Linked DNA regions of Homo sapiens: regions 1, 2, 4 and 5 are each linked to region 3. The links come from fine-mapping of genetic effects on gene expression. A gene starts in region 3. Each other region holds a variant in brackets. All regions are shown on one strand. Distances are from middle to middle.

Region 1 (5,319 bases), 30 kb after region 3:
ACCCCCCTCCACCCGCGGAGACTTAGGTGCCCGCCAACTGAGGGGCATGCGGTGGCACGCGAGGGAGGGGTCTTGTGAATGTTTGTGGGCTGCTGATGAGTAGGGGCAGGTGGTGGCCACAGTCCACGCAGACCACTTCCTGGAATAAGGCAGGAGCTCGTCCCCTCGCTCCCCCAGCCTGTGCAGGGACAGCAGTCCATTCGGATTGGGGAGCGGAGAGAAGAGTGTCTGGGGAACCAGATACCCCCGGCTCCACCCCCTTCATCTCGCCGGGGCTCTGGGCTCTTTTGTGTCAAGTGCGGTGGGGGGGGTCCCCCTCTTGACCCCGTCAGTCTGGGGTGGCCAAGCTGCCCAGCTGTGACTCTCACGTGGCTGCCATTCACTGTCACTCACTCTCTCGCTGAAACCACCCACTCCCTGAGCACGTTGGGGGGCGTGAACTGCCCACCCAGCTGTTCTGCAGCTTGACCATCACTCAGCACCCGTCCCCCGAGGTGACAAGTCACCCGGCGGCACTCTCTGGGCGGCGCTCTCCAGACCGCTGCGCCGCGTCAGGCGCCCAGCGGTGTCCCCCTCAGACCACCCTCCTAGTGGAGTGATTTCTAGTCTTCTTTGGGATAGGTGAGCATCTGGGTGTCCACACCCCCTGCTTGGGGAACAGCAGGGGGACCTCCGCACCCCCGGGCCTCTGGCTGCCATGCGGCACAAATGCACCAAACTTCAAAACGGCCAACTCCGGGCTCTTTGTAAAACTGTCATATTGATCCGTGTGGCTTCTGTGGCAAACGTTCCTGTCTAGCCGAGACGACCTTTGGGGGAGCGGGGGGTGCTTTCTTGTGGGTCGGGGAGGGATGTGTGTCTCCTGGAAACTGGATAAAGTCTCCCCGCCCCCCAAGCTTGTCTGAAAAAGGGTAAAGTTTTGAAAAAGTTCTCCCAGAGAGCCCCCTGCCTTGGCAGGAGGAGGAGGAATGAGGAGTTGTGGGGAGAGGGTGCCTTTGGGGTTGCCTCCGGCAGAGGCGCTGAAAAGAGGGAAAGAAAGGCCGTCAGGTCCTGCCAGGGGCTTGGCAGCGCTCACCTATTTGTATTGGGACTTGGAGTCTGGGGTGGGGTGGTGTGGGTCCCGGATCTGGGTACGTTGGGGAGAGAAGCGTGAAAGGATCCGAGGTTGAGATGGGTCTTTGTGTCAACCCGGCCTCCCCTTTCCCTCTTGGCTTTCTGAATAGACCAGAAGAGACGTCAGAGGCTGCTTACATTTTACAACTGAAATGAAAACCCACCTCCCCTCTCCCCCTGGGCAATTTTTATCTCCCTTTCAGCCCTCCAAGTCGAATGAGTGACCCAGATACACCCCCTCAGATGACTTTCGGAGGTAAAACTTCGGGAAATTATTTTTAGCACACTCATTATTTCTGTCTACCTAAGTGTGGGGAAAAGAACCCTCCTCTAAGGAAATTTGTTCAGGCTGCCCTCGCTCTTCCTTGTCTAGAGTATGCATTTGTGCACAGGAGAGATTTCCATTGTTTTCCATTCCGACTGCTTTGATTCTCACCATTTTGTTTTACATTCTTACTCAAGACCAATTTTATCCCTTCCCCCTCTCTCCAGTCTCCTTACATTGTTAAACGTTTAAAATAATAGCAGTCGTGTTGGTGGGGGAAGGGAGCAGGAAGCCAAAAACTCATTTCTTCTCCCTCCCCCTTCTGGCAAGTCGAGAGAAATAATATAACATAATATATAGATGTGATTCCTTGGGGGTGGGGGTGGGGAATGATTGTGGGTGGTGCGGAAAATTCTGGTAGTTTCTTTGCAAAAGGTCTGAAAATACAAACCCACCCCCTGCCTGCAGTACGCATGTGCAGCAGACCTATTATGGTGGTGCGTTGTGGGGGAGGGAGGGGAATTTGAGAAAAAATAAATATATGTGTGAGAGATTGATGGTGAGATTAGAAGAAGAGAGGGGCGGGCGGGAGGCGAGGCTTCGGCCGAGACTCCTCCCGCTTGCTCGGGCGGCCAGGCTCCGCCCTGCGCCCTCCGGCCCCCGCCTCTCTCCTCCCTGCCTCCCTGAGATCCGAGCCGGGGATGTGGGAGAGTCTGGGCTCCAGGCCAGCATTGAGTGGCTGCTGAGACCGAGGTTGGGACTTAGATTTGCTTTATTACCCTTCCTTGCTTTTCCTTGCCGTTCTCGCTTTGCCTCTCCCGCCACCGACGCCTGCCCAAGTTCGGGAACCTCCCGCTGGGGTGGGGAGTAGAGTGAACCGGCTTGTGCACCACCCCTGGCTGGTGGTGGCCGAGGCCGTGTCCCTGAACCTTAGCCAGTTGGCCTGCCCTTGCCACTGCCTCGGCAGCCTGCGTTTCCATGTTCAAGTCAACCGAAGTCCCTGGGGCCAGGGGGAGCCGGCTGCTGGGGCATGGCGCCTTCCTTGCTGACTTCCTATTACAGTCCCCATTCCGTTTCACACCCGGGCTCTGGCAGCCACCCCCCTGCACACACGCACACAGTCCTAGAGTGTCTTCCTGCACAAGGGGACACAGGATGCTGGAGTTAGCAGGAAAGGTGGCACTGAAGGAAGGCGAGGCAGCGACTCTGAGGCAGTGGAAACGGAGGCCTCTGGTGTTAATTGTGGCTAATTTTCCGTTGGCTGTTGAGGGAAGGAGAAAGGATTGTGTGTCCTAGAGCTAGGGGCTGGGCCAAGCCCAGGCTTTCCCATCTTGCATCGGCTGCCTCTCTCTGTACTAGACAGGTCTGGCTGGTTAGTCTAGTGCTTGGTAGGGGAGGGACGTGAACCAGAGCCCCAGGGCCCCAGGTCTGTGGGGCATCCTGTCTTCCTTTATGTGGGGTAACTCTCCGTTCCGTTCCCCAAGCCTTCACAGAGTGACACCTTCACAGATAATGGGGTGGGGGGCCTGGGGTCCTCTGGCAGAGACATCTGGGGAGAAAGCCAGGGACCTATCCCTGCTGAAGCAGGTACAGGCCATCCTCTGGATTTGTGGGCCTGAGAGTGTGTGTGGGTGTGGGTGCGCGCGTGCGCGCGCGTGCTTTTGAGAAGGCATATGCTGGGTGTGTCTGTCTGTGCCTATATCTTTGTTTGGGTCTCCCATACTGCGTATAGATGAATGGGTCAGGATATCTGGAACAAAATATGGAGGTGAAGGGTGAGATCGGGAAACAAAGGGTATGGCCCCCTAGTTCCCAAAGGGAGCAGGGAGATGGGAATAGAATTGAAGGTAGGTTTTAGGCTACTTGGGAGGAGGAATATTTAGGTAATTGTGGAGACTTTCTCCTGTGTGATGAAGGCGGCAGACACTGTGATCCTGTGGGCAAGAAGTAAAAATGACCAGCTGAGGATTTCTTTTCCTCCAGGACTGTGTTGGGGTGACAGGATGCCTGGTAATTATCCGAGGAAATGTAAATAGAGGCCTCCCTCTTGGCAAAA[G/C]GATGTCAGGGCCCCAGGGTGTTAGTGTGAGAACCCAGGTGTCCACCTTTGGCTCTCCCTCCCCAGCATCTGGCTTAGGGAGCTGCCAGCTTGTGTCTCCCCACTCCAAGTGCTGGGGTCAGGCCAGGCCAGCAGCTGGGCATGGCTTCCCCAGTTCCTGGGCAGGATGCCAGCTGGCGAAGTGAGGGGGAAGGCAGGAGGAGCCCTGGCGGTGACTGAAAGGACCTGCCACAGTCAGAGCCCATGGCCTGGAGCCTGGTCTCTTGTTAGTAGGAGGGGAGGGAGGGGAGTGGTTTGGCTGCTCTTCTCTTCTGACCCCTGACCTCCCATTCAGAACCAGAGCATCCCAGAGTACTCGAAACACTTTCTGTTTGCATCCAGTGAAGGGAGGCAGGGCTTGGAGGAGTTAATGCTTCCTAGAGAGTGGGAACTGCCGAGGTGGGGAAGGGGCAAGTTGAGGGGCCTCAGAGGCTGGAAACCTAGAGGCTTAGGTTTTCTGATGCTTTTTGCTTCAAAGATAAGGATGACATTCGGCTGCTGCCGTCAGCATTGGGTGTGAAGAAGAGAAAACGAGGACCCAAGAAGCAGAAGGAGAACAAGCCAGGAAAACCCCGAAAACGCAAGAAGCGTGTAAGTGTCAAGAATTCCTAACTCTGTGGCAAGGCTCAAGAGACCCATTCTCAGAGACCTACATTTTCTCTGGTCCTGATTACTGGTGTGGGGGTGGGGTTCTGAAGCCAGGGAGGCTTGATCCCCCGGGCCCCCCACTTCCCTGCCACTGTTGGCCTGTATCTCAGGGATCTGGGACCCTAACTTCATTCACTGCAACCTAGTGAAGAGCCTCGTTGTCAGTGTGTCCTCAGCAGCAAAGAGAAGCAGTTGAAAGCACAAGCTCTGGAAGACTGTATGAATTCAAGAGTCCAGCATTCCTCTGTCTAGGATACCAGGCCGTTTATTTGGCTCTCTGTGCCTTAGTTTCCTCATCTGTAAAAAGTAGATAAAGGCCGGTTGCAGTGGCTCACGCCTGTAATCCCAGCACTTTGGGAGGCTGAGCCGGGTAGATCATTTGAGGTCAGGAGTTCGCGACAAGCCTGGCCAATGTGGTGAAACTCCGTCTCTACTAAAAATACAAAAATCAGCCGGGCGCGGTGGTACGTCTGTAATCCCAGCTACACAGGAGGCTGAGGCAGGAGAATCGCTTGAACCCGGGAGGTGGAGGTTGCAGTGAGCCGAGATCACGTCAGTGCACTCCAGCATGGGTGACAGAGCAAGACTCCATCTCCAAAAAAAAAAAGGAGATAAAAAATTAGTTACTATCACAGGATTGTTGTGAAGATTAAAAGAGGTAAGATATGGTATGTGCTGAGAACAGTTTCTGGCAATGGTAGGGATGAATAAATGTTATTTTTATTTCTTTCTCTTAGGACAGTGAGGAGGAATTTGGTTCTGAGCGAGATGAGTACCGGGAGAAGTCAGAGAGTGGGGGCAGTGAATATGGAACCGGACCGGGTCGGAAACGAAGAAGGAAGCACCGAGAAAAAAAGGAGAAGAAGACAAAGCGGCGGAAAAAGGGGGAGGGAGATGGGGGGCAAAAGGTGAGTAGAATTAGGGAATGAGAGTGAGAAATCTGCATTAAAGACGGGCATGAGGAGGGGAGGAATGGAGACTGGACTGGAGAATGGGGCAAGAAGCAAGAAAGCCCAGGGAAGCTAGTGGGTAGGTAGACAGGCCTGTGTGCGGCCTGGAATAGGGGCTGGAGGAGCACCTACTTCACCAAAGCCCCTCTCCCGCAGCAAGTGGAACAGAAGTCATCAGCAACTCTGCTTCTGACCTGGGGCCTGGAGGATGTGGAGCATGTGTTCTCTGAGGAGGATTACCACACGCT
Region 2 (6,470 bases), 23 kb after region 3:
TATAATAAATGGTGAGAAGTGGAACTCTGTGTCAAAAAACACTAAGTTTATAAGTATAACACATACTATTAAATTGGCCTTGCTAGTTTTGTGGCATAGTTGTTATAGTTAATAACAGTAATATATGTGACCATCAGTTTCACATATTAGTGTCCTTTAAAACTCTAGGACATCTCATTGACTTAAAACTCATGTAGTATATAGTAGAAGAACACTAGATTGGAAACCGAAAGATAAAAGTTCAAGTCCTGGTTCTGTCTCTAACTACTAACTTGATCTTAGGTAATCCTTTCAATATCTAGGCCCCAGTTTCTATACCTATAAAATTAGATTAAAGTGATATTTTCTAAAATATGTACCTATATTATTAGTAGCATGCAAGATGCTTTTACTTTTATTGATTTTTATTTTAACAATATTGCATTTTAAATTAGAAAGAAAAACATAATTACAGTATCAAATTAAAGACTTATGAATATTATTTCTAGCAATATAAAATTTACCTTTTAAAGAACATTCATTTAAGTTAAAGAAAGGTGAGTGATTTAAAGAAAAATAGTATGCATATAATGGTATAGCTGATATATAGATATGGCAAATCATGAATATGATATATGAAGGACTGAAGTTTCCTCCTTGATAAAATCAAGAACAGGTTAGATTAAAGCAGTAAATCCTAGACTTTTAGATTTTAATGATCAATAAAATGTAAAAAAAAAAAAAGTTAGTGATCAACATGGGGTTGCTGACTTTTCATTGTGCTGAGTAAGGACATTAAGAACAACAAAATTCATAATCTCAGCACTGTGGGAGGCCGAGGCAGGTGGATCACCTGAGGTCAGGAGCTCGAGACCAGCCTGGCCAACATGGTAAAACCCCGCCTCTGCTAGAAATCCAAAAAATTAGCCGGGTGTGGTGGTGGCACGCGCCTGTAATCCCAGCTACTCGGGAGGCTGAGGCAGGAGAATGGCTGAAACCCGGGAGGCAGAGGTTGCAGTGAGCTGAGATCGCGCCATTGCACTACAGTCTGGGCAACAAGGATGAAACTACGTCTCATAAAAAGATATTTAAAATTATTTAAAATGTTGTATAATTATAAAAGAAGTACATGTTGAAAATTTTCAGATTGTACAGTAAGTATAAAAAGTCATTTTCTTATTCTTTTCCTCCCCCTTCCCCACTAAAATCTACTCACATTCTGCCATACAGATCTATCTCAGCTTTAGAAAGGAAGTTTTTAACATTATAAATATGTATATGTGTATATATGTTTAATAATATGTAACATAATTTATAACATAAAATATAAGCATATATACATATATTTATCCTATATAAATATACTGTATACTATATTTATTCTATGTAAAAATATATATCAGAAATATATCCTCTCAGAATAAAGGACAGACTTTTCCAGTAAAGGACATGTGGCAACCTTTCTTAGCCATTTGAGAACCACTGATTTATAAGACCTTCCATCTCTAAAATACTATGATTAGGTCTAGACTATCCTGAGTATTTACATGCCTTTCATTATTATCACTGACCTACATATTTCAAAAGACAATTAGGAATCTCTTTAACATATCCTTGGGTAGAAAATCATAGATTGCAAGTGTTTTTTCAGTCTTTTACTCTGCTTGTTGTATGAGTACATGTCTGTGCTCTATCACTGATTATCACTGGTTCCCTACATCAGAGTTTTAACCTGGGGTCCAAGACTTCAGGGTATTCGTAACACCGTGAAAACATATGTGACATTTTGTGTGTATTTTTTTTTTCTGGAGAAAGTTTCTAACTTTCTACGATCCTAAAAGGTTAGAAATTATTGCTTTAGATATGTTTCTTGCTTTTGCGTTAAATAATCTTATTCTTGGCTTGAGAGTCCCTTAAAAATTTTTCTTCATTTGCATTTCACAGCTGAATATTTGAGTTCTTTGTTCTCACCTTAATAGTCTTCTCATTAAAACAAAAAAAATATTCTCCTGTACCCATTAATCATAAGGAATTTAAATTTTTTATTTAATTTTTATTTTTTGAAGTACTGAAAGACAGAAGAAGGCAGAGACTGATGCCCCACAATGAAAGTGACAGGCAGGGAGACAAGCAGCTAGACAGTGAGACACACAGGCATAGATAAAAGGCCTAACGACAGAGAGACTACACAGGCAAAAGAAATATAGAGAAACCTGGAAACACAGAAGGAGAGATGCAAGAACTGAGCAGACAGAGAAGAGGGATGGCAGAAAAATAGGCTGGCAGGGAGGGAATGGAGATTGACTGACAGAGAAGGCAGGCAAAATCACCAAAAGGGATGCAGACAGGCAAACAGAGAGAGAGAGAAAGAGAGAAGAAGGGAAGACAGATAAAGGAAGAAAAAATAAGGTAAGAAGGAAGACAAAGTGATAATGGTGTTTTATACAACATAGTGCTTTATAATTTATAAAGTGCTATCACATACATTACTGCAGGCAGACAGGGAGAATCCAGCAGACAGATGGGGTGATGGAAGGATACAGGCCAATCAGACAGAAGAGAGGGGAGAGGGCCAATCAGAAAAAGAGGCTAGAATAGAGATCAAGACAGACAGATAAGAAGAAAGAACCAAGAAAAGAGAAGTAAGAGAGGGAAAGAGGGAAAGAGTGGAGAGACACAAAGATAGAGGCTGAAACAGTTAAACTCAGGAAAACAGGCAGTAAAAAAGCAGAAATGAAAGAACAGTGCATTGTGTGTAGAAGTTTTATTATCATCTTTTTCAAAGAGACCTGGTTAGAGGTTGTGTCTTTGTCTCCTTCAAAGAGTTATAAAATGTCTCTAAGGTGGCATGTGAGTGGAGCCAGAAGGCTTTAATCAGGAGAAAGCTTTTTAGACTAGGAGGAAGACAAACTTCTTAGGCCTAGGTCGACAACCTAAAGGATCTGGATTCACATGACCTTACAGAATTCATATAGACTAAGTGAGAAAGCAGGGCAGTCCTCTACCTACT[CTG/C]TGTGCATGTAAGCTCAGCTTACTGTTACTTATTAACAGTGCCTATATTTATAGGGTACTTTTTAGTACTACCGGTGCTTTCATGCCTTCTCCAATACACATTTCAGTGATGAAGCGACCAACAAAGATGTCTTGCTGGCATCAGACCACTTACCATGCAGAGTAGACTACATTTGGAGAGAGTAAAGCCTTCCTGAGCACTCCTCAAGTACTGGTAGTGAACGCATGCAACCAGTAACTAGTCAATCCAAAAGACACGTGCTTTGGGTAACACTTGGTAGAATCAAAAAGACCAGAGATGGCAAGCCCAGCCAAGTTAGTTAGGAGTACTGACAGACTGACAGAGGAAGGAGCATCCAGAAAAACTGGAAGAAAAGTAGGGAGGAGTACAGCAAAACACAAGCAAAAGCAAGCAAGCAAAAAGACTTGTATATGTGTAGACTTTTCTCTGGAGCAGTATCCAGGAAATGTGAAACAGTGGCTGCTTCTGAGGAGAGGAACTCCGGGACTAGGGGAGAAGGATGGGAGACAGGTTTACTTTTCACAGTACACTTTCTGTACTTTTAAAATGTTGTACCATAAGTATGTACTACCTATTTAGAAGTTAACTGGAAAAAGAAACAAAAGAAGAGAGAAAAGCAAGAAGAGACGTGGACAGCAAGAGCCTGCCAAGCAGACAGCAAAAAGGCAGGAAGGCAGCGAGAGACTGGGAAAATGGCAAAAAGACTGAGACAGGCAGACTGTCTGAGGAACCAGAAAGACAGAAAAAGAGATAACTGAAATAAAGGCAAACGTGAGAGAAGGCAGGGTAGGGGATGTGGCAAGAAGTTAGATAAGACTTTGAGGCAAAGGGGTTACTGAGAGGTTTAGGGGAGAGAGACTATCCTCATTGATGGAAGTTGGCAGAGAAGAAGCAAAGGAAGAAAAAGCTGGTAAGTATGAAGACTAAAGAGAGAAAAGCCTGAAACGGTGGGATAGCAGCAAACAGGGTAGACAGGCAAGAGAGATCTAAAGGGAGGCAAGGGAAAAGGAGGAACTTAACAGGCACAAATAAGAGAAGGAACAAGCAGAAGGGCAAGAGAAGAGGCAAACCAAGATGGGGAGCCGTGGCAGGGCCTGGAAGGTAGACAAACCGAGAGATGCAGGCTAAAAAAGTGATAGAGACAGGCAGGCGGGGAGACAGATGGCTAGAGAGAGAGTGGTGGGCAAACAGCCAGAGAAGCAGACAGACAACCAGAGAGGAAAAAGAGGCTGCCAGCCAGTCAGGGAGGAGCAGACAGGCAGGCAGGCAGACACCATAACAGGAGCAAGCAGGTAAAGAGGCAGAAATAAGGAGAGAAGAAGAAAAATCAAGAGGTCAGGAGAGAGAGAGAGAGAACAGAAAGAGATGCAGACAGGCAAAAGGGAGGATGGATGAGAGGGAGAATAAGGCAAATTAGCAAATCCACATGCAAAGCACACTCAAGAGAGAGAATGATGAGTGTTTGTATAGGGATGCACACGGCCACCTTTAGCCACCCGCACCTGCAGATCATGGCACATGTGGCAAGCAGAGGCTCTCAGTATAGGGAGAGGGCACAGAGGCAGAGAGGCTGCGGCGCACATGATGCGCAGTGTGGCCCACATACACGTGGAGACACTTCCCATACACAGTATGATCCACAGACACACACAGAAGGGGCCAGAAAGAGGGGGAGTCAGGCACACATGAGGAAGAGCCACACACAGTCAGAGACTGGAAGACAGAAGTAAGCAGAAAGAAGACAGAGATGGAAAGTCACGTAGAGGTGACAGAGCCTGAGGGTCCAAGGGATGAGAAGGATAGTCTCAGTTAAAAACAAAGACATAAATAGAGAGAAGCCCACAATATAGAAAGGGGGGGATAACCAGATGAACTAGTAAAGAGGGACAGAGAAAGAAGACAAGAGAGCAAAATCGACAGGAAAACTGGAAAAGGAGGAGGAGTTAGACTTAGTACAGAAATGATGTGGGAACCAAAGCAAGAGAATTCCAAAGGCCAGGTTAAAAAAAAAAGAGATGGAAACCAACACCCAATAAAGTGCATTAGTGTGGGGAGTGGAACATTAATAAAGAACATTTTAGCTTCATAAACAAAAATGTGCGTCATCTTCCCAGTCACTAATACTTTCTGGTTGCTGCCCACCTACCCCTCCCTCTCAGGGTGCTCCTGAGCACCGCCGAAGATGGGTGGCCAGCAGTTACACTGGAGAGGTAGAGGAATAACCCAGAGAGAAATGATTCCACAGGCATGGAATGGGAAGCAAGGGAAGGGGCAAAGGGAGATCAAAGGAATGGGAGGAAGCTAGAGTAAGAAAGGGTCAACAAGAATGAAAGAGGGTAGAACTGAGCTATTTGCCCTCCTTCCTTTGCTCCATTTGGCAAGGATCATTTTCTGTCTAGACCTCTCTGGGCAAATCTCTGTATGAGAAAGCTACTTTGGGACTCCTTTCCAACTGTCCAATTCCTGGTACCACTTTACCATAAACACTGGGGTACAGTTGGAAATCACAGGTCAGAAAGTTAGATGAAAACGCCTGGGTATAACCCCTACCTCTGCTTTTTCTCAGTTCCAGCTCCTTTCTCTTTCACGGTACCTCAGTTGCTTCTACTTTATCGGATAGTGTTGGAGATCATGGAGGGAAGGCAAATATACTGAAACGGAAGAAAAGAGAACATAATTTCACGATCTTCAGATTTGACTCTTTCCTCTTTATCCTAAAAATTTGTTGTTTACCCCCCAAATTAATTTCTCAAGTCAGTTGAATTTTACATTCTAACAATTGGAGGAGGGGAAAGCGAGGGAAAGGGGAAAAGAGTAAAGATAAAATTTATAACAATTATAAATCACTGAAAAGGCTGGGTAAAGGGGAGAATCAAACATGGACTCCTTTGAAAAAAACTCAATCATCGTATCTATTCATATCTCTCCCCCAAAAGTCACTAGGATTTCTATCACTTTTTTTAAAGAAAGCAGAAAAAAATCCAGTCCCGCTTCTCATTTAAAAGATATGTACACAATTAAATGCGTTGTGACTTCAATGAGGTATGTAGAAACAGAGTTATATATAAACATATATTTCATCTTTTTCCTTTTCAATGCCTGAAGGGGAAAAAAACCTTCACATCAAACCACTCCCTTCTGAAGTATTCAAAAAAAAAAAAGCTTTTCTTTAGAGAAGGGAGGTGGGGAGGAAGAGACTAGTAAAGAAAATAAAAAAAATTAAATCTAGTTGGACTAGTATCTAACTAGTTAACCTTTAACAATTTATGCTGATGTCAGACTGAGCATGAGTACTGATTAATGCCCCCCCTCAAATATTTTTTATAAGGGGGGAGTTAGTCACAGCAGCCATTTTTGTTTTATGCAGAAATCCTTCATGCCCCCCCAACACACACACACACACACACACACTTCAGTACACAAGGAAAATATCTCTATTAATCTGTGCACTAATCAG
Region 3 (6,203 bases):
TTCGGCTTCCTCTGCCACTCTCAGGTGAGCGTGCGCCCCGGGGTGTGCGTGTGAGTGTGAGTGTTGGTGTGTGGTGATGCTGGCGGTGGGGTCTATGGGCCACAACTTCAACCCGCCTGGGCTGTTTCCACCCCGTGCACAGTATCGCCTGGTCGGCTTGGGCCTGACGCCTCTTCTCCCACAGTTCCTGCGCTCCCAGGCACCCCCTTGCACCGCGCACCTGCGGGACCCCGGTTTCACGGCCCTACTGGTCACCGGATTCCTGCTCCTCGTGCCGCTGCTCGTGCTTGCTCTGGCCAGCTACCGCCGCCTCTGCCTGCGCCTCCGCCTAGCCGATTGCCTCGTGCCCTACAGCCGAGCCCTTTATCGGCGTCGGCGCGCCCCGCAGCCGCGGCAAATCCGGGCCTCACCAGGGTCCCAGGCCGTTCCCACATCAGGAAAGGTCTGGGTCTAATGACCCTCGAGTCAAGAACAACCCTGACGGCTGCCCTCCCTCTTATTCGGCCCAAGGACTTGAAGCCCGGCATCTTCCGACCTGCCCTGCCCCCACCCCTGCCTGAGCGGAGTCCTAGCATCCCCTTGGGAGCAGCAGCGTCAGTGGACCCAGTGCTGAGAAAAGCCCCCACATCCCGGAAAACCCACTTTCCTTTCACGACCCACATCTCAATCCTGAACATCTAGGCTGGAACCTGCACACCTCCCCCTCAGCTCCGTCGTGAATGGGACAACAATCTCGTGCCCTCGTTTTATGGTGCAGCTTCTCTAGTATTTCTGGGGCTGGGGGGCGGGGCTGGAGGGGAAGGAGTGTCCACGCATCAATAAAGATTTAACGAACTGAACGCGCTCTGCGAACAGAGGCGTGGCACAAGTACTATCACCCCTGCCCTGTGCCGAGGAACAGGAAACATGTGCCAGGGCTACAAATGAGCAGAGAGGAGCATCCTTGAGCCCCCTGGCCTTATCGCTTTTGTCCGTTCTTCCTGGCCAGACCTCAGAGATCTGTTCCTGACCCCAGGCACCTCCCCCTCAATAGAGTGGAGGGGCCCAGCCTCGGCCGCCTGCCGCTGCTCCCCTTGGGGACCTGAGCCCGTTCTCTGACCCCAGCTTAGAGGAACTCGGTGTTGCCAGGCCGGGGTGGGAAACAATGGGCCTTCCGGAGCAGGATGACACCCCCTCCCGCCACAATTCTGGAGCAGCAGCCGTGGGAGGGAAGATGCAGGGGCCCACCCTGGGGCCTGTTGGTCCGTCATTCAGCCCTGCCCCCCATCTCTACCCCTGAACTTGAGAGAACCTTTGGCACCCCTGGACATCTTGGTTGGGAGAGGAGGGTTGAGGGTGCTCCCGACTTCAGATGAGCCCTTTCCTCTAGGGATGGGGTGTGCTATCCTGCACCGGCATCCCAGCTACACACAGACACAGGCCCATTCGGTCATAAGTTTAATGAAGTCTGAAAGGTAAGCGCCATCGTGGTCAGAGATACGGAGGCCCGGTCAGACTCTCCCTCTGCACCTCAATGGAAACGATGTGGTGTCCGGGTACCATGGCCAGGCCCAGCACACGGGGCTCCCCGGCAGAGAAGGAATCTGGAAAGAAGGATCAGAGCATCAGGAAAGTAGGCCAGAATCAGTCCCGCCCCTCTGAGCCACGAAAACGAGCCCCAGAAAACAAGGGTTGCAGCCAGGCCCTTAAGGGGAAATGCCTTGCGTAAGGTTCCGCCACATTACCAGGCGGGTGTGCATTCCCCGGGCACTGACCCGACGGCTTGAGGAACTCCTGCGCCGAGCCCAGGATGACATTGCAGTCACGGTCAGTGCAGAGGAAGCAGCCGACCAGTGTCCGTCCATCTGTCATGCGAATGCGCATAGTCTTGTTGAGCAGCGCCTCTAGCTGCTGTCGGGCGCGCTCAGCCGCCGAGTCCTCGCGCTCTCCGTCCGAATCCTGCGCGGGGTGTAACAAGCGCTCAGACCGCGCAGCCCAGGCTGCCCGCCCGCGGAACCACAGCTCCCGGCAGCCCGCGGGGCACTCACACAAAGCCCAGAGGCTGCCGGGAGCTGCAGTTCCCCACCCCCTCCATCTTGCTGCTTGACTGCCCCTCAGTCCCAGAACCAGAGCCCGTGCTAACCCCAGCACTGGAGCTGCTCTGACGCCGACTGCAACAGCCATTCTCTTCTCGTAGCAGCATGGTCGGTCCAGCTCCGGCCATTTGCCCGGAGGCCTCCTCTGGGCCTTTCAACTTCCTAAGCACCTTTCAGGTTGGGTGGTCCGAGATCTCGCGAGCGCTCCCGACCTCTTTCCTTTCGCGAGATCCCCTCTCCTCCCCCTCCTAGTCTCCTCGGCAACGGCACAGATCTCGCGAGCTTCTCCTACTTCTCTAGCGCTGTGGCTCACTGAAGCGTACTACGCCGGATGTCTTAAGATATCGCGAGACCTTTACCTCTGGTTTCTTACACATCCTTTAGAAACTGGAATTTAGCGAGAATACATTCTTTCATACTGCCTCCTCCCTTGTTTTTCTGTCTCAGAGAGATAGTCTGTCCTAAATATCCCATGTAGCCCAGGCCACTGAATTAAAACGGAGCGTATTCGTTCTCTGCCCCACCCCGCAACTCCTGAAAGCGGCGCAACTCAATTACTTGATCCTTATATGCCCCACGCGGGACTCATACTACGTTTCCCGTGAACACGTGCAGTCCAAACCCCGCCCCTGATATTTATCTCAGTGGACGGTGGCCGGAAAAGGACAATGGTTTCCATGTCAGCGGATAAACGCTCTCCCCTCGGCTCCCGGACGCGACGGAGGTCGTAGTAGTAGTGAGTACGTGCTGAGGAGCAAAGGAGTAACCAAGAGATCCAGTGACCGACAGAGCAAGAGCCATGCCGCGCCGGGGCCTGGTGGCTGGGCCAGACTTGGAGTATTTTCAGCGTCGCTATTTCACGCCGGCGGAGGTGGCCCAACATAACAGGCCCGAAGACCTCTGGGTATCTTACCTGGGACGCGTGTACGACCTAACGTCATTGGCACAGGAATACAAGGGTAAGGGCCACACGTTGGGCCGGGGCCGGAGTGTGTGTGTGTGCACGCGCGCGTTTGCCTGGTTCTCGAAGGGCTGGCATTGACAGTGGCTGTGCTGCTCTTTTCAAGGGAACCTGCTGCTGAAACCCATCGTGGAAGTTGCAGGCCAGGATATCAGCCACTGGTTTGATCCAAAGACCAGAGACGTGAGTTATGCTGGAACCTGGGATTGTGGGTAGAGGAAATGGAGAGCGGGGATGGGAAGGAAAGGCGGAGGCTAGCCAGAGCCTAATGGCTGCTCTGACACCCTCGCCCCAAACCCTCCTTTAAAGATCCGCAAGCACATAGATCCGCTGACCGGCTGCCTGAGGTACTGCACCCCGCGGGGCCGCTTTGTGCACGTTCCGCCTCAGCTGCCCTGTTCGGACTGGGCCAACGATTTTGGGAAGCCCTGGTGGCAGGGGTCGTATTATGAGGTGGGGCGGCTGTCTGCCAAGACCCGGAGCATCCGCATCATTAACACGCTCACGTCGCAGGAGCACACACTGGAGGTGAGAACTGGTGACAAGGAGCAGGTTAGAAGGAATGGGGAATCCCAGCAAATCTCCAGGCCGATCTTCAGGGCAACATTTTTTCCATAACCGGTGGGAGTGTATTTTCTGTCCTTTACATTGAGGCAACTGAGGAAAGCACAGCACCTAGGTCCCCAGGGTTGGGAATTCTAGGAGTGTCTGGGTCACAGGGGGACAAGAGACTCCTTTATAAGCCTGGGAACAGCAGTTCATGTATCTTAGTGATGGTGGTCCTTCGAAGCTCTTACACGCCGTTTTGGACAGCAATTGGACTTTCTTTTTAATCTACTCTGTTGCATGGATATAGTGAGGGGACAGTTGACCCTTTATGGCCATCCGGTAGTTAGAAGTGGCTGCCATTAAGATCTGTAGGACTTTAGGGTCTGCTCATTGCATGCTGGAGTTTCAGCTTTTTTTTCCCGGGGCCGTAGAGTACCTGAAGCTGCTATCTGCCAAGGGAGGCACTTTGATCCCAGCGTGTGTATATGTATACTCCATCCAGAATTCTGGGGGTGGGGTGCTTCTGTGTTCTCCAGGTGGGGGTTCTGGAGTCCATATGGGAAATCCTACACCGCTATCTCCCCTATAACTCACATGCTGCCAGCTACACGTGGAAATATGAAGGGAAGAACCTGAACATGGATTTTACCCTGGAAGAGAATGGGATCCGGGATGAGGAGGAAGAATTTGACTATCTCAGTATGGACGGTACACTTCACACACCTGCAATACTTCTGTACTTCAATGATGATCTCACGGAGTTGTAGGCAAGGAGATGTACACTCGTGTAGACTCAAGACGTATTTCGAGTTTGGCTTTTTCTGTGCCTTGAGGAAAAGTGGTGGGGCCGAGGGGTGCCTGGACCCAGATCTCCACTCCTCTCCAGGAGCTAGCCTGTGCCCTTCTGAAGTGTAAAGGCCCTATTCCCTGCCTTCATTACAGTTTGCTCTGAGAAAATTAGTGAATTAATCTTTGGGAATGATACAAGAAGATCAAGTACCTTGGTTTAGGGAGATGTAGAAGAGGATAGTCAGAGTTCAGGCAGAACTGTTTGATAGTTAAGAGAGAGTAGTTCTACAGGGGTGAGGGATGGAAGGACTTTTTTGGCAATGATGGAAATGAGATGTCTGCAGGAAGATGGGATTTACAAAGAAATAGGAAATGTTTATCATTGACCATACAAAGCTGGCTTATCTTACTTGTAGAAGAGTGTTTGGCAGCTGAAACCCAAGGGAAAGAAAGGAAGTGCGTCATTATAGGCAATTCAGGCTAGATATTATACTAGGTACTTCATATACCCTCTTTTTTTTTTTTGCCCCCAACAAAGAGAAGGGGTCTTGCTCTGTCACCCAGTCTGGAGTGCAGTGGCAAAATCATGGCTCACTGCAGCCTGGAGCTCCTGGGCACAAGTGATCCTCCCATCTCTGCCTTGAGTAGCTGGGACTTCAGGTGCACGCCACAATGCCTAATTTTTTAATTTTTTGTAGACACAGGGTCTCGCTGTGTTGCCCAGGCTGGTTTCAACCTCCTGGCCTCAAGTGATCCTCTTGCCTCAGCCTCCCAAATAGCCTCTTCAAGACAACTACCCCATAAGGTGGATTACCATTACTATGTTACAGATAAGTCCTTCGAAACTTTGGAAAGTTTAATAGCTCAAAGCCACACTAGGTAGTAACCACTAGAGCCAGAATGCAAATTCAAGTCTGCCCAACTCCAAAGTCCATGTTCTCTCAATATAAAGGGACCATCTCAATGTCTAATCTCATGTTAACATTTGTAGCCACTGCTCTCAGCAAGTATTTGGGATGTGGCTTTGTCCTAGGATCCCTGCACAATAGGAAATTGTGGTCCTATTGTATAGTTTGCAGTTATTGTCTCTGGAAGGGAGTTTGCAGAGTTCTCCTGTGGCGAAGAGGAGGCAAGGAAGGCTAAGTGTCAGTTAAGCAATAGCTATTGGGGCTACTTCTTTGTTAATCCCATACCCCAGATTTCTCTCCTGACCTTTTGGGGCAAAGAGGTGGGTATTTACTAACTTGAAGGAAAACTAGAGTGGGGAAAAGGCCGGCAAATTAGTGACACTTTGGCGAGGGAGAAAAAGGAGGCAGTTTGCCACTTGGAGAAGATGAGGAAGACAGGGTTGCAAGACGGTGACTCCAAAAGAGGGAGCTCGACAGGGGTAATGTAAACAGAGATGCTAACTAAGTCAGAAAACTCTCCTGGTGACCAAAAGAGAACCACTATTGGGGGTAATGGCTAGATTTGGTCTCCTTTAACTTAAGGAGGGGAGATTTGAGAATGACAGACAGTTGAACTTCCTGGCAGCAGCAAGCAAAAAACAAATCAGGAAGAGTTTAGTGTGTCTTCTGGCAGGGGACACCAGGGCCCAGCACAGGAGAAGGTGGCCCCTGTGAGATACTGGTGGGCTATATAGGCATTTTCTGAGGGGCTTTGGGAGGCATGAACAAAGGTGGAAACATTGCTGTTGGCTTCGGCAGTATCTGAATTTACTGTGAGATGGAGGGTTTAAATCTAACCCCATGGAATGCAGGAGTCCATGAATTATCTAAATCGATCATTTTGATCTTTAATCAACTCTGCAATTATGTGTACCTTGTTTG
Region 4 (5,000 bases), 62 kb before region 3:
TTCTTTCTTTCTTCTCTTTCTCTTTCTTTCTTTTTCTTTCTTCTCTTTCTTTCTCTTTCTTTCTTTCTTTTTTTCTTTCTTTCAGACAGCATCTTGCTATGTTGCCAAGGCTGGGGTGCCGGGTTAATTTTATGATTTTTAGTGGACACAAGGTCCCCATATGTTGGCCAGGCTGGTTTTGAACTCCTGGGCTCAAGAGATCCTCCCATCTTGGCCTCCCAAAGTGTTGGCATTACAGGCCTGAGCCATGCTCCCGGCTGCTTCTCTTTAATCAGCGGCCATCGCGGCCTGGCTCCTGGGGTTGTTTGTGTGTATATCTGGCACTCAGGGCCAAAAACTCGCCTAGTGCTATATTCATGTGTGTTTGAGAGAGAACATACACACACACGTGTATAGATAGGTACAATTTTAAAAGAAGAAAAAGAGAAAAAGAAGAAAGAGAAAGTCTAGAAGACACAAATGTTTTTTTACTTACCTGTATTTTCTCATTTGGGTACATGGATTATAAGGATGAAATACAGACAAATGCATTCCTGGTACTAAAATAAGTTTCCCATGTCCCTTCCTTCTCTTCCCCTCCCCCTGCCCTACCACTCCATGTTCCTCTCAACTCGCTGCATCCCGGTTCCTCTTCCCCTTTGTCCCTCCTCGCACTGTTTTCCTCCCACTCCTTTTCACCTGGCCTGTGTCGGCGCCTCTCTTGCCCTCTCCCCTCCTGCCTGTCTGCCCTCCTTGTCGCTGCTCTCTAGGAAATGTTCCTGATGGCTGCCATGGGCCCCCCTGGGGGTGGACGGACTGTCATCTCCCCAAGGCTACGGAGTCGCTTCAACATTATCAACATGACCTTCCCCACAGTGAGGACCTCATGGGGGCTGCAGGACGAGGGGAGGGTAGGAGGTGAAACGTGTCTGTCTCAGAGAAGCAGGGGCCAGATCCCAGGGGGCTGCGGCACCCCAAGTGGAGCTCCACGCAGGACGCTGGGACGATCCGTAAGGGCATGTGCTGGCTCCTGAGCTAGGAGAGCTACGGGTTGGAAGCGTACCTTCCTGGCTGTGGACAAGGAAGCCTTGTAGTCCCAATGGGCAGAGAACACAGTGAAGCCCAAGTAGACTAAGGAAGGTAGATCCTACAAAGCCCACGGCAGTGTCAGGATTAGAGCCAGGCCAGCAAGTCACTTGTCTCAGTGCAGAATTTAAGGGGGCACCCAAAAGACTCTGTAATCAGGAGAAATAATATGTTAACACTTCCTTTTTTTTTTTTTTTTTTTTGAGACAGGGTCTCACTCTGTTGCCCAGGCTGGAATGCAGTGGCATGATCTCAGCTCACTGCAACCTCCACTTCCCGGGTTCAAGTGATTCTCCTGCCTCAGCCTCCAGAGTAGCTGGGACTACAGGCGCCCGCCACCACGCCCAGCTAATTCTTGTATTTTCAATAGAGACAGAGTTTCGTCATGTTGCCCAGTCTGGTCTCAAACTCCTGGACTCCAGAGATCCACCAACCTCAGCCTCCCACCACACTTGGCCTCACTTTTTTTTTTCCTGTCTATGACATTTTATTGATCCTATGGAGTGGGAAGGAGAACTGGAGAAGTATGTGGGGCCAAGGGATCCCAGGGGAACAGGGAAGGTATTGAGGCTTGGCCACTAGTACTGGCGAGTCTGTAGTAATGCAATATTTTTTAAAATTAAAATTAATGCCAATAATTTATGATGAGCAAAATACCACCATTTTGAATAAATACAAAATCAGTAGAGTACAGTGCTAAGCCATATTGGAGCCTAAGGGGAAAGGAGAAATCAGTAATCCCCATCTGGTCTTTATTTTAAATGTTTGTGTTTGTTCCTCATGAATATTTTGCATTCATTTTTGTTTTTAAATACTGTGTTGGCCAGGCACGGTGGCTCCCAGCTGTAATCCCAGTACCTTAGTAGGCTGAGGCAGGTGGATCACTCGAGCCCAGGAGTTTGATATCAGCCTGAGCAACACGGGGAAACCCTGTCTCTACAAAAAAATACAAAAATTAGCCGGGTGTGGTGGTGCACACCTGTGTTCCCAGCTACTTGAGAGGCTGAGGTGGGAGGATTGCTTGAGCCCAGGAGGTCGAGCCTGCAGTGAACCATGATTGCACCATTGGACACCAGCTTGAATATATATATATATAATATTTATATATATATATTTATTTTATATACATATATATATAGTGTTAAGGCTGGGCGCAGTAGCTCTCGCCTGTAATCCCAGCACTTTGGGAGGCCAAAGCAGGTGGATCACCTGAGATTGGGAGTTTGAGATCAGCCTGACCA[C/T]CATGGAGAAACCCTGTCTCTACTAAAAATACAAAAAATTAGCTGGGCGTGGTGGTGGACACCTGTAATCCCAGCTACTTGGGAGGATCAGGCAGAGAATTGCTTGAACCCGGGAGGCGGAAGTTGCAGTATAAATAAATAAATAAATAAATATAAATATGTATAAATATATAGTATATATATATATAGTGTTATATAATAGTATTTGTCAGTTGTCTTATTTCTGAGTTTAGGATTTTTTTTTTTTTTTTTTTTTTGAGACAGAGTTTCACTCATTGCCCAAGCTGGAGTGCAGTGGCACGATGTTGGCTCACCGCAACCTCCGCCTCCTGGGGTCAAGTGATTCTCCTGCCTCAGCCTCCCAAGTAGCTGGGATTAGAGGCATGTGCCACCACGCCCGGCTAATTTTATATTTTTTAGTAAAGACGGAGTTTCTCCATGTTGGTCAGGCTGGTCTCGAACTCCCGACCTCAAGTGATCTGCCCGCCTTGGCCTCCCAAAGTACTGGGATTACAGGCATGAGCCACCGTGCCCGGCCCTAGGATTTTTTTTGACACCCCCTTAAATTGTGCCCATGAGCCAAGCTCTTTATTGGCTTCCCCTCTGGCTAGAAGGCCAGCAGCCCTGGAGAGTGAGCCAGGGTCTGTTTCTAGAAGTCCCAGATCATCCGCATATTCGGCACCATGATCAATCAGAAGCTTCAGGACTTTGAGGAAGAGGTGAAGCCCATTGGGAACGTGGTGACAGAGGCCACCCTGGACATGTACAACACCGTGGTACAGCGCTTCCTGCCCACGCCCACCAAGATGCATTACCTCTTCAACCTTCGAGACATCTCCAAGGTGACTCGCGGCCTGACCTTGCCCCTTCTGCTTGGCCCAGCCTCCGCGGAGGCTTTCTCTTCTCAAACTAAGCCTTAACACTCACTAGCATGCGCACCAAAAGTCACCCCCATGCTGAAGTGCCACACTCCCTGGCCTTACCTTTAAAACTTCTGGGCCAAGTGCGGTGGCTCACACCTGTAATTCCAGCACTTTGGGAGGCCAACGCAGGCAGATCACCTGAGGTTAGGAGTTCAAGACCAGCCTGGCCAACATGGTGAAATCCTGTCTCTATTAAAAATACAAAAAAAAAAAAAAAAATTAGCTGGGCATGGTGGCACGCGCCTGTAGTCCCAGCTACATGGGAGGCTGAGGCAGGAGAATTGCTTGAACCTGGGAGGCAGAGGTTGCAGTGAGCTGAGATTGCACCACTGCAGTCCAGCCTTGGAGACAGAGTGAGACTCTGTCCCAAAAAAAAAAAAAAAAAAAACTTCTGGAGGGAATCTTTTTGCTCCCTGGTCCCAACAGTCAGTCCTCTTCCCAGGTGTTCCAGGGCATGCTTAGAGCCAACAAGGACTTCCATGATACCAAGTCCAGCATCACACGGCTCTGGATCCATGAATGTTTCAGGTGACATGCATGTGCCCTGGCCAAACGAAGGCTTCCTCAGCCTTGCTCCCACCCCTACTTTGTTCCCAGCCTGACACTGCCTTCCCCAGGCCATTCTCCTCTTTATTCCCCGATCTCACCCCAGTTCCCTGCCCACAGAGTCTTCTCTGACCGGCTGGTTGATGCGGCAGACACAGAAGCCTTCATGGGCATCATAAGCGACAAGCTCGGCTCCTTCTTTGACCTCACATTTCATCATCTCTGTCCCAGCAAGCGTCCTCCTATCTTTGGTGAGCCAGGAGCTGTGATGACCTTGGGCTTGACACTCTTAGAACATCGGGGCTAGAAGGAGTCAGGGCATGGGGTCTGAAGTGTGGAGCCCTGTGGGGGGAGGCAAACCAGGCATTTGTGACTCTGATCCCCTCTTCCCATGGCTCAGGGGATTTCCTGAAGGAGCCCAAGGTGTATGAAGACCTCACGGATCTGACAGTGCTGAAGACAGTCATGGAGACAGCTCTAAATGAGTATAACCTGTCACCCTCTGTCGTGCCCATGCAGCTAGTGCTCTTCCGAGAGGCTATTGAACACAGTGAGCACCTGCCACGCCTATCCCCTTCCCCATCATCTCAGTGATGGGGTATGTCTAAGGAAATAGGGGTCCCTTCCCAGGTCTCCCAAATCAAGTTCCAGAAGCTGCCTTTCTCCCTGGCCCCAGATGCCCTGTGGCAGTGTGTGTTTAACAGAGAAGGTGGAGGTTAAAAGTTGAATTGCCTCCTGGGCCTTGGGCACCAACTTCTTCTCATACCTCTTGGTTCCTCTGCTTCAGTTTCAGGGGCCCCAATCCCTAGCCTAGGGCCTGGAGGTCCCCTGAGTTTGCTCAGCCAACTCATTACCCTCACACCCACCCCACCCCCAGTCACACGGATCGTGCGGGTCATTGGACAGCCTCGGGGCAACATGCTCCTGGTGGGTATCGGGGGCAGCGGACGCCAGAGTCTGGCCCGCCTGGCTTCATCCATCTGCGACTACACCACCTTCCAGATCGAGGTCACCAAACATTATCGGAAGCAGGAGTTCCGAGATGGTACGGCTGGGTTTCTGAAATGCTAGGAATAAAAGATCAGATGCATACATTCCTGCAGTGACAAGAGAGGAGAGATGGCAGCCAGATGGGCAGACGTGTCTGGCCCGTGTTGGGTGTAGGATGGTGTCGCGTGTATGCTGCGGGGCGGGGAGGGTTCCTAAATCTCAGAAAAGGAATCAA
Region 5 (6,470 bases), 61 kb after region 3:
GCACGTGTGGGGGCGGTGGAGGCTTGAGGCCGGGAATGACAGCAATGATGGAGTCGGGGAGGCGGCCCAGGCCATGCCAGGACCGGAGCCCTGGGGGCCAAAGCACCCATTCCTCCCTACTCCCGGGGGAGCGGGGTGGGGCTTTCCTTCTTCCCCCAACGCAACGCCAGCGCTCCTTAATTCTACCATGTACAAAGCCCCGGGTCTCTCTCTGCGCCTGAGCCCTCAGTCACTGGCACAAGTCTCTAAAGCCCCCTCCGCCTATTCAGTTGCTCGCAGTTAGTTTCACAATCCCACCCAGTTTCCAAACACGGCCCGTTCTGCCCAACCTTTAGTGGTCCCTGGGCCTTTGAATCGATTTTGCCCTCAATTCTCATTATAGATGACCTCTCTGTGTTGTTTGTAAGGCTGGCTTCCTAAACTTCATTCTCCCCAAACTGCTTAACTCTCAGCTGGTATCTCAGCCTAAGGAGGGACCTAGATGCCAGGACCATGGCTTTAGGAATGCTGGGAATCCTTTCCTTCCGGAGGCCTGGACACCCACACATCGTGATGGCCCCAGCAAAGCTCCCCAGCATAAGTTCTGACTCAGGGGTCTGACTTCTCCCACTGGTAAACAGGACATGGTACTCACAACCCACATTCCCCTCATGGTGCCACACCCACACACAGCTGCCTCCTCACCCTCCTCTCCTGGACCTGCAGCCCAGGTTCTGTTATGGAGGGTGATAACACAGTCTAGAGCCAGCTGGCTTGAGTTCAGATCCTAGCTTCCACCTCTTACTAGTTGTGACACTTTGAGCAAGTTACTTAATTTCTCTGGGCCTTGGTTTCCTAGTTTTAAAAATGTGGATAATAATAATGAGGACTGAATGAACTTATATGTGTAAGGTGCTTCAAATGGTGTCCAGTACACAGTAAAACACCAGGTAAGTACTATATTAGCTACTATTGTTATCCTGTGCCCCCAGCCTATACTGAATTCACATTAACTTCTGAGTACCCAACATTTTCTTTTTTTTCTTTTTTTTTTTTTTTTGAGACGGAGTCTTGCTGGGTTGCCCAGGCTGGAGTGCAGTGGCACCATCTCGGCTCACTGCAAGCTCCGCCTCCCGGGTTCATGCCATTCTCCTGCCTCAGCCTCCCGAGTAGCTGGGACTACAGGCGCCCACCACCACGCCCAGCTAATTTTTTGTATTTTTAGTAGAGACGGGGTTTCAATGTGTTAGCCAGGATGGTCTCGATCTCCTGACCTGGTGATCCGCCCGCCTCGGCCTCTCAAAGTGCTGGGATTACAGGCGTGAGCCACCGCGCCCGGCCAGTACCCAACATTTTCAACACCCATCCATCTTGACCAATATGTGCATGATGAGCTTCTCCACACCCATGGCATTTACCAGCTATCACAGGCAATGCAAAGCTGGTTTTTAAACCTAAATTGTTAAAACCTAGAGGGTAATCTCTTTTGAGGAGGTATACCATCATTTTTAAGCAAACATTTCAGAACTTTTGAATGGTATTGTCTGTGATCATGGGAGAAGCTGTCTACTTATTACAGTGATGCTGTCACAATTCAAAACTTTTTGGTCTTAAAAAAGGACTGGTAGGGCCAGGCATGGTGGCTCTTGCCTGTAATCCCAGCATTTTGGGAGGCCGAGGTGGGTGGATCACTTGAGGTCAGGAGTTCAAGACCAGCCTGGCCAAATGGTGAAACCCCATCTCTACTAAAAATACAAAAATTAGCCGGGGGTGGTGGCTCACACCTGTAGTCCCAGCTATTTGGGAGGCTGAGGCACGAGAATTGCTTGAACCTGGGAGGTGGAGGTTGCAGTGAGCCGAGATCACGCCACTGCACTCCAGACTGAGCAACAGAATGAGACTCGGTCTCAAAAAAAAAAAAAAAAGGGGGAACTGGTAGGTATCTATTGTTAATAAATACATGATGGGCCGAGTGTGGTGGCTTACGCCTGTAATCCCAGCACTTTGGGAGGCAGAGACGGGCAGATTGCCTAAGCTTAGGAGTTCACGACCAGCCTGGGCAACACAGGGAAACCCTGTCTCTACTAAAATACAAAAAATTAGCTGGGCGTGGCGGCGTGCACCTGTAGTCCCAGCTACTCAGGAGGCTGAGGTGGGAGAATTGCTTGAACCCAGGAGACAGAGATTGCAGTGAGCTGAGATCGTGCCAGTGTACTGCAGCCTGGGCGACAGGGTGAGACTCTATCTCAAAAAAAAAAAAAAAAGCTTTTAATGTGGTGGTAGATTAATGGTGGCCCCAAATTCCTTTGCAATGTGACTTTGCTGCATCTCACATCAAGAATTGGGGTCTCTTTCTCTATCCCTTGAATCTGGGCTGGTCTTGTAACTAGTTTTGACCAATAGATGTGGCAGAAGTGATGTGTGAGTTCTGGAACCTAGTCCTTCAGAGGCCTTGTAGCTTCTGCTTTTGTCCCCTTGGAACACTCCCTGAGACCACCATGTGAGGATGAGGCCACACGGAGGAGCGCCAGCCAACAACCAGACATGCTGGTGAGGCCATTTTGCATTTTCCTGCTTGGCTCACCTGCCATTTGAGTGCAGCCACGTGAGTGAGCCTAGGTGAAAACAGCAAAGGAACTCCCAGCAAGCCCATAGAATCGTGAAAAAGAACAGTTTTTAAAAGTTATTTCTACTGAGTGTGGTGGCTCACACCTGTAATCCTAGCACTATGGGAGGCCAAGATGGAAGGATAACTTGAGCTCGGGAATTTGAGATCAGCCTGGGAATCGTGGTGAGACCCCATCATTACAAAAAAAAAGAAAAAAGCCAGGCTCAGTGGTGCACATCGTCCCAGCTACTCAGTAGGCTGAGGTGGGAGGATCACTTGAGCCTCAGGACTTCGAAGCTGCACTGAGCCGTGATCATGTCAGTGCACTCCAGCCTGGGTGACAGAGCGAGACCCCCGCCTCTTAAAAATAAATAAAAAGTGGCTGGGCGCGGTGGCTCACGCCTGTAATCCCAGCACTTTGGGAGGCTGAGGCAGGCAGATCACAAGATCAGGAGATCAAGACCCTCCTGGACAACAAGGTGAAATCCCGTCTCTACTAAAAAAACAAAAATTAGCTGGGCGTGGTGGCACGTATCTGTAATCCCAGCTACTGGGGAGGCTGAGGCAGGAGAATCGCTTGAACTAGGGAGTCGGAGGTTGCAGTGAGCCAAGATCGCCACTGCACTCCAGTCTGGCGACAGAGCGAGACTCCATCTCTAAATAAATAAATAAATAAATAAATAAATAAATAGTGGCTGGGTGTGGTGGCTCACGCCTGTAATCCCAGCACTTTGGGAGGCCGAGGCAGGTGGATCACCAGGAGTTCAAGACCAGCCTGGCCAAGATGGTGAAACCCTGTCTCTACTAAAAATACAAAAAATTAGTTGAGCATGGTGGCACTCGCCTGTAGTCCCAGCTACTCAGGAGGGTGAGGCAGGAGAATCGCTTGAACCCGGGAGAGGGAGGTTGCAATGAGCTGAGATCATGCAACTGTACTCCAGCCTGAGTGACAGAGCGAGACTCCATCTCAAATAAAATAAAATAAAAATAAATAAAAAGTTATCTCAGGCCATTAACTTTGGTGGTGATTTGTTGTGTATCAATAGATAACGGATATAGAGGGTTTCCTACTGTTTTTTTTTCCCTGTATGATAAATATATTTTTTGAGACAGGAGCTTGCTCTGAGCATCAGGCTGGAGTGTAGTGGCATAATCTTGGCTCACTACAGCCTTGATCTC[C/T]CAGACTCAAGCCACCTACCTACCTCAGGCTCCGAGTAGCTGGGACTACACAGGTATGAGCTACCATGCTCAGCTAATTCTTGTATTTTTGTAGAGATGGGGTCTCCCCATGTTGTCCAGGCTGGTCTTGAACCCCTGGGCTCAAGTGATCCCACCTGCCTTGGCCTCCCAAAGTGCTTGGATTACAGGTGTGAGCCACTGCGCCCAGCCTAGATAAATATAACATTGTAATGTGCCCTGTAAGTCCCTGTGTGTTCTGAACTTACCCCTTCCTTCCTTCCTTCCTTCCAGACAGAGTCTTGCTCCGTCGCCCAGGCTGGAATGCAGTGGTGCAATCTCAGCTCATTGCAACCTCTGCCTCCTGGGCTCAAGTGATTCTCCTGCCTCAGCCTTCTGAGTAGCTGGGACTACAGGTGGGTGTCACCATGCCTGGCTAATTTTTATTTTTATTTTTATTTTTTATTTTTAGTAGAGATAGGTTTTCGCCATGTTGGCCAGGCTGGTCTCAAACTCCTGACCTCAAGTGATCCACCAGCCTCAGCCTCCCAAAGTACTGGGATTACAGGCGTGAGCCACCGCACCCAGCCATTACCCATGTCTCACTTTCTGTTCTGTTCCTCTCTAGACACTCTGGCTTTGGGTACTTTTGGCTTGTATGTTCTTTTCTGCCACAGGCCTTAGCATATGCTCTTAACCCTCTTGCTTAACCCTTATTAACACCTATTCATGCTTCAGCTCTCAGCGTAACCTCACCATGTCAAATAACCACTACAGACTCAGTAATACCATGTGCTTTCCTCTGGACTTTGGACAAGAAGTTTGTATTTATTTGGTGGTTCTGTGATTGTCTCTCTCCTCAGCAAGATATATGAAGGTTCTGAGTCTGGTTTTGTTCACCCTTGTATCCCTGTGCTATACCATAATAGGACTCAATAGACAAATACTTGCTAAATTAATGAATGAGGTGGGTGATAAATATGGCAAATGTCCATATACAAAGGAGGCGTGACAATAAAGGAAGGCTTTTTTTTTTGTTTTTTTTTTTTTAAATCAAGGCGTTTCCAAACTCTCTCTGAAGGTAATTCTAGGAGGAATGGTGTTTGTTTGTTTTTAATATTTTGAGCAATGGGACAGGTTCATTAAAATAAGTGTATAACCCTCTAAGATAACTATTTAAGGAGAATCCTATTTGGGATTGATAAATTCTCGTATGTTACAGAATAACTAATCATAGTTTAGTAATATATTTTACTTCTTTGTTTCCTCCACAGTCTTGCAAAATGAGTGGGAGATGATGGGGTGGATTTAAGTATTAATTAGTTGATGCAGTTGGCTGCTAATCCAGTAAATGGCATGCTGCTGACTTTTCTCTTTTGGAAATTGGTTTTACTTTGCTTGCCCAGCTTTTGGATCAAGGCGGGATGAGGACGGGTAGAAGGGAGATGGGCAGGTTGTATTTAAGGAAGGCAGAGCTCATCCTCCTCTACCTTGTGATCTTTAAGGTTGTAACTTTCCACCCAATTCTGTTCCAGTGAAATGATAACATCTTTCCTTCTCTCTGTATTCCCTCAACCTCAGACCATTCTTCACTTTACCTCTCCACCAAATCACAAAGCCTCAACCTCAGAACAGCATCTCCCCCTCAGCCACAGGTTCCTTGGCATATGTGTGGGTGTCCAGCGAGAGAGAAATGAGAAGTACAAGGAACAAGTATGGCTAATATTACTTTAAATACAAACAAATAAAGGCAGATAGCTAAGTCTTTCATAGAAAGAGGAGGAACAAAATTATGAAGCCAGATTTCTGGGTTCTAAGGAATGTGGTAGCTGAAGGAAGAAAACTGGGGCCTGGGGTATCTGGTGTCTTGGTCCTTGATGAGAACAGTGACTAGGAGCCCGATGCCTGGGTCACCAAGGTGAATGAGCAATGGAGAGAAAGCTAATGCTAGCAGATTTCTAATGTTAGGGGGCGAGAGGGCCAGACAAGTGAGACTGTGACCCTAACCTCCCAAGCCCCTGCAACTTTAGACACTGTGAGGATCAAGCTGAGGTTTATTTACAGTTACCTGGGAAGTCTTACAGAGAAGGGGCCATCATTATTGCTTTAGGTTTATTGCCAGGAGGAAGACTGCAGTTCCCCACTGCCAGGTAGGAGGCCCTGCTCAAGGCTCAAAAGTCTATACCCAGACGTTTTATTTATTTATTTTTTTTAAATCAAGGCGTCCCTGCCCGTGACGGAAAGGCTGTCACTAATTCCTGCCAAGAACAGCCCAACTGTTTTCCAAGGACCACCCCGGCCACTTTCACCAGACTGCAGCGTAGATGTGCTATTACATTTCCCTCTACCTTTGTCAGTGCTGTGCCACTGTAGACCCCACCCTGACCGCCCTCCTCCACCTCTGGGCTGGGAGGCAGGGTCCTGGTTTCCCAAAGATTATCATTTACTTCCTGCCAGGACCAGCCTGGCTTCCTTCGTACCGAATACGCTAAGAGCCCCATTTCCTATGTTCCAGATGACATCACAACTCACTCACTAGGTTATTACCCTTTGATGACATTTCAAGGGCCCCTTTTGAGGTACACTGTATGTTTCTTGTATGTGCTGGGTTTTTGTTTTTGTTTTCTTTTCTGGGCCTCGGGAATAAGGGGAGGAGAGTAGGGAGCGAGACGAAGTGGCAGAGAGCCGACGGCGAGTAGCTCATGCC

Evidence for each region.
Region 1: its variant is fine-mapped to the expression of CYB5D1 in whole blood (TOPMed, PIP above 0.99).
Region 2: its variant is fine-mapped to the expression of CYB5D1 in whole blood (TOPMed, PIP above 0.99).
Region 4: its variant is fine-mapped to the expression of CYB5D1 in whole blood (TOPMed, PIP 0.96).
Region 5: its variant is fine-mapped to the expression of CYB5D1 in whole blood (TOPMed, PIP above 0.99).

The regions. Positions count from the first base shown.
Region 1 is chr17:7,885,713-7,891,031 of GRCh38, forward strand. CHD3 (chromodomain helicase DNA binding protein 3) reads left to right here and starts at 3,077. Exons shown (of 40, transcript NM_001005273.3): 1 at 3,077-3,388; 2 at 3,952-4,064; 3 at 4,859-5,029; 4 at 5,228-5,319. The coding sequence starts at 3,289. RefSeq lists enhancers at 140-189, 3,509-4,078 and a silencer at 1,940-2,099. The variant G/C (reference allele first, on the strand shown) is at 3,435.
Region 2 is chr17:7,877,672-7,884,141 of GRCh38, forward strand. It overlaps a transcript of NAA38 not described here. Among named protein-coding and RNA genes, the nearest start is that of CHD3, 7.9 kb to the right of the region's middle. The variant CTG/C (reference allele first, on the strand shown) is at 2,990.
Region 3 is chr17:7,855,261-7,861,463 of GRCh38, forward strand. CYB5D1 (cytochrome b5 domain containing 1) reads left to right here and starts at 2,743. Exons shown (of 4, transcript NM_144607.6): 1 at 2,743-3,034; 2 at 3,143-3,219; 3 at 3,346-3,564; 4 at 4,122-6,203. The coding sequence starts at 2,875. The coding sequence ends at 4,352. TMEM88 (transmembrane protein 88) reads left to right here. Exons shown (of 2, transcript NM_203411.2): 1 at 1-24; 2 at 185-839. The coding sequence ends at 454. NAA38 (N-alpha-acetyltransferase 38, NatC auxiliary subunit) reads right to left here and starts at 2,299. Exons shown (of 3, transcript NM_001320925.4): 1 at 2,123-2,299; 2 at 1,755-1,938; 3 at 1,425-1,583. The coding sequence starts at 2,203. The coding sequence ends at 1,471. RefSeq lists enhancers at 725-1,262, 1,384-1,463, 1,996-2,858, 2,114-2,483, 2,211-2,505 and 2 more.
Region 4 is chr17:7,793,505-7,798,504 of GRCh38, forward strand. It overlaps DNAH2 (dynein axonemal heavy chain 2), which reads left to right. Exons shown (of 86, transcript NM_020877.5): 49 at 750-854; 50 at 2,960-3,148; 51 at 3,672-3,757; 52 at 3,896-4,026; 53 at 4,176-4,325; 54 at 4,653-4,820. Among named protein-coding and RNA genes, the nearest start is that of KDM6B, 38 kb to the right of the region's middle. The variant C/T (reference allele first, on the strand shown) is at 2,307.
Region 5 is chr17:7,916,382-7,922,851 of GRCh38, forward strand. KCNAB3 (potassium voltage-gated channel subfamily A regulatory beta subunit 3) reads right to left here. Exons shown (of 14, transcript NM_004732.4): 14 at 5,478-6,470. Among named protein-coding and RNA genes, the nearest start is that of RNF227, 3.3 kb to the left of the region's middle. The variant C/T (reference allele first, on the strand shown) is at 3,767.